Regions from separate parts of the Homo sapiens genome. Here region 2 is linked to region 1. Evidence: fine-mapped expression QTL. Tissue or cell type: lung. Region 1 holds a variant in brackets; the other region holds the start of a gene. All regions are shown on one strand. Distances are between the middles of the regions.

Region 1 (5,990 bases):
TTTGTTTTGTTTTGTTTTCATTTCTTTTTTTTTTAATTGTGAAGTATACACACAGTGCTTTTGTTTTTAATTGGCTGTCATCCCCCTCCTCCCTTCCTGATTTTTGATGTAAAAGAACCCCTGCCCCAAAGACCCATTGTCTCCATCCTCAGAGATAGGGCTAGAAGATGAGGATACTATGCATCTGAAAATGGCAACAGGTCCCAAGAAAGGAGAGCTGCAGTGGCTGCATGTGATAACTGCTGGCCCCTCCCTCTGTTCTTTACAAAGCACTTTCACTCTCAGCAGCCCAGTAGGGGGCCAGGGTGGCGGATGAAGAAGTGCACTCTGGGAAGTGGCTTGCCCAGAGTCATGGGGTAGTTGGATTCTCCCCCAGAGCTGGAGACACCTCATCTCCCTCCTAGGTGCCTCCTCTGTAGGGGGCCTTGTCCCCAGGCAGAAGAGCCTGTTGAGTTCTTTAACCACAGGGTCAGCCTGGCTGTCTGTGGGCTGGTGACCTGGCTACCTCCCACACCAGGACAGCAGGCCTCAGGTTGGGGCCTCTGGCTGCTCTGGGCCTCCTCCCCAGAAGGTCAGCTTTCCAAACACATGCCTTGCCAAAGAAGGCAGCTGCCTGGGTGTCAGGGAGGAAGAACACACCCCGGGACATCTTTCCCAAGGGGCTGTCTCGAAAAGAAATTGCTTCTCTCACAGAAGCAAGGCAGGAAGGACCAAGGTCCTTAACTTCTAAGGGGGACCCCAGGGTCCAGACAGGGAGGGGATGTGTCCAGTAAGGCTACATAGCAGGTCAGTGGTAGAGTCAGGAAGGAACCCAGGTCTCCTAGCCCAGCCCAGGGCTTTGTCACTTCCCCATCCTGCCCCTTCCCAATGAGGCCCTGCACATGCTGCTCTTCCCCAGTCCCCAGGGAACCCCATGAGCTCAAGACACTACCATGTTCTCCAAACAAAATCAAGTCTGATGCACTTTAATTTTTGAGTGCACAGAGCCTCCATGGCTCCTTGAGGAGCCAGCAGCAGATAATATAATCTGGGCCACGGGAGGAGGCTGGTGCAGCTCCCAGGAGGCTGCAGGACATGGCTTCTGGAGGCACAGCCTCCACTCCCAAAGTACCTACTGAGTGACAGGCCCTGTGCTGTGGGCTTTGTGGCCCTGAGCCATCAAGGCCTCATGCGGTTTCCAGCTATTGGTGTCAACAGCGTCTTCCCAGAAACCCTGTGGCTGGCAGTGAGTGGGTGTTGTGTTGGGCACACGTGACCCTGTGTGTGCTCAGGCTCAGCCCCCTGTGGCTACTGCTCTGTGCCTCTCCCTAGAGCCTCAAGAGTGCCAAAGGTGGGGTCCCGCCCTCTGCAGCCCAGGCTGGAGAACCAGCCTGCACCGTTTTTGGAGTTTTCTTTCCAGCCTTTCTGGAGGATCAAAACCTAAAACATGTTTGAATTTTTTGCTTTTGTTTTTTAAAAACAAAGCTTCTGTTTCTCCAATAAGAAGAGCAGTATTTTACTATTACAGAAATCTGGAAACAGGGAAAATTAGGAAGTTTTGTTCAGGCTACCCTGGGCAGTGCTGTCCTAGGGTGGCCATGGGCAGACAGAGGTGGCTGGGCGGGCAGTGCTTGGACCAGTGCCCTAATTTCATTTTCTCTGCTCCTCCCACAGAAGGGTGATGATCTGGAGGAGGGTGTCACAAGTGAAGGTATGGCCTGGCCAGTGGCCTTACAGCCCCCTTTTGTTGCCTCTGTGCAGGCTGCACAGGAGCCAGCCCCCATCATCTTGGAGCCCCCGCTGCCAGAGCACCTACTGGTGCCAGGCCCTGAGCCATGGGCTTCACGGGTGGCTTTGTCCCACCCAGGTCTTACGCTGATTTGGGAAGTGTGATTTATCTCGCTTATTGGGAAACAGGTCAGAAAGAACATGTCAATTCCACAAAGTTGCAGAGCTGGTGAATAGCGGGTGCAGATTGCCACCTGGTCCTGACCCACAGGTGCTCAGCCCAGCTCAGACACGCAGTTTGTGGAGGTGCGCAGCAGCACCCTTGGGCCACTGAGCCAGAAGGGAGGAGCCTCTCCTGGGCCTCAGCTGATGGGCTGGATGGGAGCAGCGGGGTCTTAGTTCTCCCACATGGCCACCCCCACATCCCCTGCCCTTCACATCCTGCCTCCCCAAGCTCATCTTGCCCCACTCCATCTGCCTCTCCGTGCTCCTGTCCTCCTCTCCCCAGGTCTGCCAGACCCTGTGGCCAGACCGCTCCGCAGGGAGGGAAACTTCAGAGGACCCTGCTCCCTAGCTCTCAGTGCCCATAGAAATGGGGCACTCCCCCCTCCCCACTGCATTCCTCAGCATCTCCTCAGTCCTCCATTGGTGGGCAAGGGTGGGGTAGGTGGGATGGTTCCTGCCTGTTTAATCAGAAGCTGGCCCCTCCAGCTTACCCTGCCCCACCCCCAGTGCTGATCTGGAAAATGGACAAAACCCAGTGCTGATCTGGAAAATGGTCAGCGGTAGGGTGAGCACTCTGGGCTGTGTTTTCCAGAGCCTTTCCCTCCAGGGCAGGAGGACTGGGCACAGCCAGGAGCCTCCCCCCACACTGCAGCTCACGAACCCCTCCCTACCCACCTGCTCCTAGGTGGGCTTCATGCCTGCCCTAGAGGAGGAAACGGGCTGGGGAGTGGAAGGGTGCGCTTCCTCTGGTGGCCTGCCCTCACCAACCCTGACCCTTGCCTTGGTTTGTATTGCAGAGTTTGATAAATTCCTTGAAGAAAGAGCCAAAGCTGCTGAAATGGTTCCCGACCTCCCCTCGCCCCCCATGGAGGCTCCTGCCCCAGCCTCAAACCCTTCTGGCCGGAAGAAGCCAGAGCGGTCAGAGGATGCCCTCTTCGCCCTGTGAGCAGCTCTGTGGTTTGCCTCCCCAGATGGCGGGTCCCCGCT[C/T]GCACCCCGTGGACACCGGGCACTGGCCACTCCTACATCCCCAGCTCCACACGGCCTGCACACCTGTGTTTCCATGGAAATGCCACCGTGTCTGCTCCCAGGCCTCCCACTAGTCAGGACCAGCTTCAGCCACTTCTTTTCTCTGAGTGGTGGGACAACTGCAGCCAGAGACTCTCTCCCCTCCCACCATGGGCCCCTCTGCCCATGTTTCCTCCCAGGAAGAGCGGGCAGAGTGGCCCAGCCCCAGGCAGTGCTTCCTGAGCAGACCACCCGGACTGTCTTTCCTCCACCCGCCCATGGAGAAAGAGCACGCCCGGCCCCGCCCTGTGCTCACCTCTGCCTGGCTCAGCGACCTTCTCAGGCATTCTGCCCTCCTGGGCCCCTCTCTCCCTGAAGGGGCTTTGTGGCATCTCTGGAAGAGCAGGGTGTGCTGCACTCATGGGCCTGGTCTCACTCCTTGGACTTGTCACCTTGTGACATTTGGCTTATCAGCATTTGAGAAGGCTCTGCTGGGTCTCCATGGTGGGGGTCTCTCACCTTCTTGACCCTCTCTCCATCATTCAGCTGCCAGCCCAGGCTTCACACCCAAGCTGGCTCAGCAGCCGAGCCTGGCACCGAGGGTCCCTGCAGGCTCCCTGGGCAGGGAGAGGGCCAAGGACAATTGGGAGGGCAGCAGGCAGCCCGCAGATGGTGGCCATGTGGCACGCTGCTGAGACGACACTACCAATAAACCAAACTGCCACGCACACACTGCAGGCTCACACCCGCACACCTGGTCCTGGCTTGTGGAGGGACTTGCACTGGAGGTATTGCTCTGGCTTGCCTGGGGAAGTGTCACAGATGTGCACATGGGCCACACTCAGTGCTGTGGCCTGGCCTGCCGTAGCCTCACACATCTGCCTCAAGAGCCAGCAGCAAACAGCTTTGTGGCATCCTTGGAGGTTCCCAGTGACTGAGAGGCCTGGGCAGCACTAAGGCCCCTGCTCTGCTCCCTGGCATAGGCCTTGGCCTCCTTGCACAGACTCTCCTGACAGTCTGGCCTCCTCCCACCTCAGAGGTCCTCTGGCCACCAATTTATACTCTCTCCCCAAGCTGATCCTGAAGGCAGGCAGAGCAGCTAGGGGCTGGTAACATGTATTCCCATCCCGTGTCCTCACTGGTGTGTCTCCTGGCCATGGGCAAGGGACTCGGGTCATCCCAGGCCCTGGTCCAGCCAGACACCTGGCCCCACACCTCCCACCAGGCTGCTGTTGCTCAGAAGGAGAATACTGCAGCTGTATGCATCCCCGTGTGTCTTGGGCCCAGCTCGCTGGGTCAGTCTGCTCCTGTCCCCTCCAGCATGCACTGCCTAGGTCAGCACAGGTTCCTGATCCATGGTGTAGTTAGCCCTTCCCACCTGGCAGGACGGCCCAGACCACCAGCCAAGCAGGGAAAGGGGGCTGGGCTTGACGGGAGAAGAGACCAGCGACATGGTCGTTGGGGAGCATTCAGGATGGCGACTTCAGCTGGGGGTCATGCTGAGCACCAACAGGAACTATTCCAGTGAAGAGCAAGTGCTGCCCGACCCAGGACCCTGTGCCAGGCTAGCAGCCCTCCAGCTCCCTCCAGAGAGGAAACCTCTGTCTGGCTGAGGGTGGGACTAGCTGGGATGTCTCACTCCAGTTGCTCAGGTTCACCCAGGAAGCTCCTCCGTGGAGTGGCCAGCCTGATTCTAGCCCTGTCCTCTCTGGCAGCACATGCCACACCTGCCTGGGCCTTCTGCTCCCTGATGCTTGATGAGCCCCTGCCTCCTCAATGTTTCTCAAAGACAGACCCCCCTGAGGCCAGCTTGAATGTGAAGACTGCTGAAGTTAGCTGGCTTCACTTGAGCTGCAGAAAAGGTGGCTGGGATGGCCCAGGTGCACCCAGAGGCCCCAGCCCTTTGGCTGCCTTTGGGTTGTGACTTGGGTTGTCTCTGAGGCCCTGCCAGAGCTGGGCCTGCGGGTGGTGGGCGGTCCGACCTCGGGCAGTCAGTGCTCCGCAGCCTCAGCACTGCATCCCAGACCCAGTGTCCTCAGAGGGAAGAGCCAGCCTCCCTGCCTCATGGAACCAGGAGTCCCAAAAAGTCAGGAGCCTGGAGGCTCTGAAAGGAGCAGGGATTCCATAGTGCGTGAAGCTGAAATAGGCGCCCTCCTGGGGAGCCCCCAGCAAAACTGTTTTTCATACCCACTCCCAGAACTGCCCCGCTCCAGCTCCAGCGCCAGCGCCAGCTGGTTGCCAGGCATCATTGGAGAGGCCTGGCTGCCCCAGGGGCAGCAGGGAGTGGTGGACCTGTATGGGCTGGCAGGAGGCCATTGGCCATGCTGACAAGTGTCACCTGCCTTCCTAGCCTGGAGCCACCCCTCAGGTGGCCTGCTTGCACCTCCTATCCGGAGGTAGCCTGCCCCACCTGTAGGCAGAGGGGGCTCTTGCTTGAGGCCTGCACAGGAAGCAAGTATAGCCCCGGTGCCCCAGAGTGGGTTCCACTTAGCCCTGGCGAGATGGCCTGTCCTGAGATCTCTGCTCCCAGACCCCACCATCTGGGGAGCACAGTCCTTAGGCTGCCTGGTCCAGGAAGGGGGTGCGGCTCTGTCAGGAAACCTGGACTCTCAAGGCCCACCAGCCTCTCCGTGAGTGTTAGAAATCACAGATACAGTATATACTTAATTACACTAAATTATTGCTGGGATTCCTTATAAGCACTAATTATACCTGATTATAGGTTAAAATATTTATTTTGTCAAAATATTTTCTTGGGAATGTGTTTAACCCTTTCTGCGTTCATTGTTGCTGAGATGTGAAAACTAACCATTCCCTCCTGCCTACCTTTTTGGCCACTGGGCGGCAGAGAATGGCGCTATGTGCAGTTGGGCCCCTGGCACCATGGGCCTTTGGCCTGCCTGCTGCAGAGTAGCCCTGCCTGGGCAGTCTCCAGGCACTGAGCAGGCCATCTGTGGCCAGGCTGAGAGAATGACTGGCTCGCTTACCAGCGTGCATGGGACAAGGAGCTTTGGAGCCTCAAGGGGTTGTTGCTGGCCTGGGCTAGAGGGAAA
Region 2 (5,990 bases), 130 kb before region 1:
GGGCCATACAATCCTGTTACCTGGTCTTAGAGACTTCCCTCTAAGACTGCCCTCCTCTTGCCTCCCTGACCATCCACTTGGATGCAGCTTCTGCAAATATGCATCCTCTGCCCTGAACTGTCCCTCATCAAATGTCCCAATGAGCTCTTGTGCACACTTCTCTCTTGCTTCCAGGGGAGGCATAGCCTCCACACCCTTCAACCCCTACCCCTTCTCCACCTGTGCCTTCCGTCCTCCCAAGACCTTGGTCCTTTTCCTCCCACTCTCTCCAATCTGTTCACACTGGCTCCACCTCGTTGGGGTGACTGATTCTACCCCCAAAGACAGTTCCAGACCTCGGCCTCTCTCTAGCTCCCCACTCTTATGCAATGGCTTCCCCTGCGGTTTCCCATAACTTGTCATCAACTTGTCTTTGGGGGAATTTTAATGTGTTATATTTGGCTGATGTTTTCTGCAAAGTGTTTGGCCTTTTTTTTGGGGGGGGGGTGGGGAGGTCAGGCGCGGTGGCTCACACTTGTAATCCCAGCACTTTGGGAGGCCGAGGTGGGCGGATCACAAGGTCAGGAGATCAAGACCATCCTGGCCAACATGGTGAAACCCTGACTTTATTAAAAATACAAAAATTAGCTGGGCATGGTGGCGCATGTCTGTAATCCCAGCTACTTGACAGGCTGAGGCAGGAGAATCGCTTGAACCAGGGAGTTGGAGGTTGCAGTGAGCCGAGATCGTGCACCACTGCACTCTAGCCTGGTGATAGAGCGAGACTCCATCAAGAAAAAAAAAAAAAAAAAGGTGCTATACTTTGGGAAATGACTCTTAATTTTGATTTCAAAACTTTAACTGACTTATCCCTCCTACTTCATCAGGGCCTGGTACCTGTGACAGATCAAGTTTGCTTTCAGTCAAGCCCAGCAATTGCTATGCTAGGAAATGGGGGATTGTTATTACATATGCTATTTGTTAAGCACATCAGAGCAGGATTTGGATCCTGACTGTGCATCTTTTGGCAACTCACTTCACCTATCTAAGCCTTGGCTTTCCCATCTGTAAAAGGTGGATAATTTCTCCCTTCTGCATTTGTGTGAGATCACGTATTTAGTCCACACATGGGTAGTGAGTAACTGCTATATGCTGTGAATAAAACAGACGGACTTTAACCCAGCTTCAGGCATGAATCAAACAATAATACAAATATTTAACTACAAACCATGACAATTTGTAGGTGTAGGGAACTATGAAATTGTACATTAGGGGCACCTGGCCTGGCCAAGGAAGACAGGGCTGATTGGAAGGACAAGCAGGAAAGAAGGAGGAGGTAACTTTGTGGAAAGGCCCTTTAGGTGGGAGAGAACAGACTTGTTGCACTTTGGCTGAAGTGATGCAAGTTTGGAGAGGTCTGTGGGAGTTTTGTTATTATCCTAGAATCCCTGGAAAGCACCTAGGGCTTAATAAGGGCAGCAACATTAGCTGGGCATGGTGGTGCATGCCTGTAGTCCCAGCTACCCTGGAGGCTGAGGCAGGAGAATCGCTTGAAACCGGGAGGCGGAGGTTGCGGTGAGCCGAGATCGTGCCATTGCACTCCAGCCTGGGCAACAAGAGCGAAACTCCATCTCAAAAAATAAAAAAAATAAGGGAAGCAATGTGATCAGATCTTAGTTTTTAAGAAGCTCACTCTAGCAACAGTACTGAGAATTGCAAAAGTACTGAGGTGAGAGATGACCAGGGTGTTAGCAAGATGTAGATGGGAGAAATTTCTAGAAACTTAATTTACATGTAGGGCTAATACTCACCAATATCCAGATAAGAAAACAGAAGCTAGTTAAAAAGGTTAATTAACATGCCCAACTTCATACACTTAGCACGTGGCAGAGTTCATTTTCCTAATCATGACTCAACTGTATCCAGGGTACTGGGGACTATCATTGCCACAGCTCACAGTGTTTCTCACAGTTGTCCTGGGTTCAGGGCCAAGGCCCAAACAGTCCTCTTCTATGGGGATCTTATAGTTTACCACCCAACCTGGGTCCCCTTTGACTTGCCTGATGATAGTGTTGTTGAAGACCAGAGAGGTTGGAGCTGGGGAAAGCAGCAGAGTTTTACACAACTGTCAACGGAGTGGCCTCCTCACAGATAACAGATCCAGAATTTTCCTGGGAAATGATAACCTGAAGTCAACAGGATCTGAAAACTATAGTCCCTATTGGCCATGAATTAATAAGGAGAAAATTGGTTGGGCGAGATGGCTTACACCTGTAATCCCAGCTCTTTGGGAGGCCGAGGTGGAAGGACTGCTTGAGTTCAGGAGTTCAAGACCAGCCCGGGCAACATAGGAAGACCCTGTCTCCATTTTTAAAAATAAAAAATAAATAAATAAATAAATAATGAACAAAATTTTTCTTAAAAAAGAATAAAATCAATCACTTACTGAATGCTTACTGTGTGCTCAGTGCACATGCATTATTTAAGTACATGTAAGCTCCGGAGGCCATAAAAAGGGAGTCCTAATGCCCTTATTTCCCAGCTAGGGAACCTGAGGCTCCAGGGAGGTAAAGGAACTTGTCCAAAGTCGTACAATGAGTTACTGACAGAGACGGATACAGAACTTGAGTAGCCGTATTCACATCCAAAGCGGTATATACAGTACCAAGATGAAATCATTTGATAGTTATGAGGTCAGTTATGATGGCTAAATTCTGGGAAAAGTTATCAGTGGACCGGGTACCTCTCTTTCTATGAAAGGAGGCTGGAAGACGGAACCCCTTAAAAATCCATTCTGGCCCTGCTCCCTCGGGAAATGCTTCCTTAGTATTTTTTTTTTTTTTTATTCAAAAGCTTGACAAGCCCAGGACTAAAGTGTCTTGGCTGTCTCACACGACTGTAAAGTGGCTGGGAGAGGACCTACGTGCTCATTTTATAAATGAGAAGGGCCGGGCCGGCGTTCTCCGAGAAAAAGGTCACAGGAAAGAGTTACGTCGGGCACTATCTGTCCCTGCAAGTCCTCCGGGAGCCTCAGCTCCCAGGTCTCACCTTCTCAAGCGCTGGGAACTCGGCGGTTCCACGCAGCAGACGCGTCTCCCGGTTGCTGGGGAACCAAGCGCCGCGACTTGGTTGCTAAGGGGAAGTCAGAAGGGAGACATCCTGGGTGAAAGTTGACAAGTCACGTGACCACATCTCCGTGTGGTGAAACACTCCTTACACCAACCAGCCGTAGAGAAAACAAATGTTTCTCCAATCAGTACTTTCTATGGGCGGGGATATTCCTAGATTCACCTCTGTTCCGTCCATTTGCGTGATTGACTCGTCTTTTGTCCAATAATAGTAAGAATCCTTTAGATTGACCAATATACAGAGGAATCAAAATGCGCAGCTTCCCCTTTGGGGGCGGGCCAGGGGAGGTGCCGCCACGGCTGACAGGGACTCCGGTGACCTAGCTCGCTCCTCCGCCCAATCGGACGCTGCGGGGTGGGTGGGGGCTTTGCTGACAGAGGTGTAACGACCAATAGGAGGCGGGCTTCGTAGGTGTCCCCCAATAGAGACGCGGCAAGGGGGCGGGGCCAAAGGCCCTAAGCTCGGCGTTCCAGAGAGTGGGGAGGGGGCAAGTGTCAGTCAGGACGGGAGTCCGGCGGGTTACAGCGGAGGCCTAGGTGGCAGACAGGGGGCCCGGGCCGCTGCGTGTTGTCCACCCAAGATGGAGTTCCTCCTGGGGAACCCGTTCAGCACACCAGTGGGGCAGTGCCTCGGTAAGGCCGCGTGTGGGGCAGGAGGCTGGGCAACGGCGGCCGCTGATCCGGCTGGTGAGGACCGCGGGCCTCCGCCGGGCGCCGGTGCCACTTCACGAGCGGGCTGGGCCTCCGCCAGCCGCGGGTGCCACTCCACGAGCGGGCTGGGCATCCTGGTCGTCGGGCCTTTGCCGGGCGCTTGTGCCACCTCACGGGCGGGCTGGGCATCCTGGTCGTCTGGCCTTCACTGGGCGTCGGTGCCACCTCACGGGCGGGTTGGGCATCCTGGTCGTCGGGCGTTCGCCGGGCGCCGGTGCCACCTCCCGGGGGGGCTGGGCCTTCGCCGGGTGCCGGTGCTATCCCACGGGCAGGCAGGGCATCTGTGTCCTCGGGCCTCCTCCCGGGCACTGGTGCCACCTCACGGGCGCGCCAGTGCCACTCTGCCAGGAGGCACCCCTGAGGCCCAACTTGGACTCGGAGATGCCCCAGGCTTCCCTGCCCATCAAGGCTCAGCCCTTCCTTTTGCTGCTAGAGGTGGTGCCAACTGCTGGTCTGCTTCCCCAATGCGCTTTGGGAGATGCCACTGCATGTGTCTTTATCCAGCCCAGCAGGCTCACTGCCACTGCCCCAAGGACCCAGTTCTCCCAAACCCTTTGTGGGATGTCACCTTCTTCTCCATCTTTGTCCCTCCTCTTCGGTACCAGCAACCCTCAGACTGGGCACCCTCCCAGAAATGCCCCCTGCTCCGGGACTTGCTAATTTGAGCTGCAACTCAGCTGTGCTGTAGGAGGGACTGGGATAGGAGGAGGGGCTCTTGGAGGGTGATTATCTTGGCAGGGGGATGGCATGCCTGCAGTGCCTCCCAGGAAAGAAGGGAGGCTGTGTTATTTAATGATAAGAGCCCTGGACTGGGAATCATGGAAGCCTGGACTCTAGCAGTGGTTTTGTCAGTGACTCCATATGACCTTGTGCCCTTTCTGGTTTGAAGTTCCCCTGTCTGTCAAAGTGTTTGGAGATGAGATGTGATAGATCCCTTAAAGTTCTCAAGTTTTGATATTCTTTGTAGTACTCTGCACATTGACTGTTGCTTCCTCCCCCACCTCATATTAAGTTTACCAAAGCTGAAATCTTTTGTTGGCAATGTAGAGAGAATGGTACTCAGCATTATCTGTTAATCCTATAGGGGGGATGTGGACACCTGGGGACACCAGAGATGGCCAGAATCATGGATAAGGAAAGCCCAAAGTGTAGGTAAAGGAATACTGAAATGGCCACCATATGGGACTTCCTTACTAAGAAAGCAACTTGCCTTTTTACCCAAGGCAGTGGCTTATGCCACTTGATCAGTCAAGAATGCTGATTAGTTTGTTTGAAAACTGGATTCCTCCTGGTTGGTTGAAGGACTGGTAAAACGTCTTTTATGAGCCAGGATCTTTGGTGTTCTTATGGGCCTGATTTCAGCAGTAGTGATTTGTTTATTTTCTGCTTTGCTTATGAAATTTTAGCTTACTTTCCAGCCTTTAGTGGAGCCTATAAACTTATTGAGGTCTCTCCTGTTGGCTAATTAGCATTTAGGAGCCTTTCTTTACTTTCTGGCGTAGTATCTTTTATAATGCATGAGGGACCCCAAAAGAGTGTTTTCCCACCTTTTTGACATCTTGTCTCTTGCTGCCCACTGGAGAGTCTCTGGATTCTCACTTCCTTACTTCTTCCCCATGTCCTTTTCCACTCTCTTCAGGTGCTCTTGCATGGCAGCCACACTCCAAAAACTAATTTCCAGCCAGTTAATGGAGGGAGCCAGAAAACTTGCGAGAATTGTTTTCCTTTCTGTCCCCTTTATAATAGGAAGCTCTACACCTTTAAAATGACAAGGTAGTAAATGAGGGGTAGAAGTTAAAGGGGATTTAAAATACAAATGTGGTTGGGTGCGGTGGCTCACGCCTGTAATCTCAGCACTTTGGGAGGTTGAGGCGGGCGGATCACAAGGTCAGGAGATCGAGACCATCTTGGCTAACACGGTGAAACCCCGTCTCTACTAAAAATCCAAAAAAAAAAAGAAAATTAGCCAGGCGTGGTGGCATGCGCCTGTAGTCCCAGCTACTCGGGAGGCTGAGGCAGGAGAATTGCTTGAACCCGGGAGGCGGAGTTTGCAGTGAGCTGAGATTGTGCCACTGCACTCCAGCCTGGGCGACAGAGTGAGACTCTGTCTCAAAAAACAAACAAACAACAACAACAACAACAAAAAACCAAATATAAGAGATATAGGGATAT

The links. PIP is the estimated chance that this variant, and not a neighbour inherited with it, causes the effect.
Region 2: it holds the start of TOM1L2, and the variant in region 1 is fine-mapped to the expression of TOM1L2 in lung (TOPMed, PIP 0.99).

Annotation. Positions count from the first base shown.
Region 1 is chr17:17,844,523-17,850,512 of GRCh38, reverse strand. TOM1L2 (target of myb1 like 2 membrane trafficking protein) reads left to right here. Exons shown (of 15, transcript NM_001082968.2): 14 at 1,654-1,690; 15 at 2,730-5,990. The coding sequence ends at 2,878. Among named protein-coding and RNA genes, the nearest start is that of SREBF1, 11 kb to the right of the region's middle. RefSeq lists enhancers at 244-538, 360-619, 1,121-1,967, 5,726-5,990. The variant C/T (reference allele first, on the strand shown) is at 2,920.
Region 2 is chr17:17,970,012-17,976,001 of GRCh38, reverse strand. It overlaps TOM1L2 (target of myb1 like 2 membrane trafficking protein), which reads left to right and starts at 3,602. Exons shown (of 15, transcript NM_001082968.2): 1 at 3,602-3,740. The coding sequence starts at 3,689. It overlaps DRC3 (dynein regulatory complex subunit 3), which reads right to left and starts at 3,140. Exons shown (of 14, transcript NM_031294.4): 1 at 3,028-3,140; 2 at 2,040-2,150. RefSeq lists enhancers at 2,849-3,168, 3,540-4,109 and a silencer at 3,849-3,898.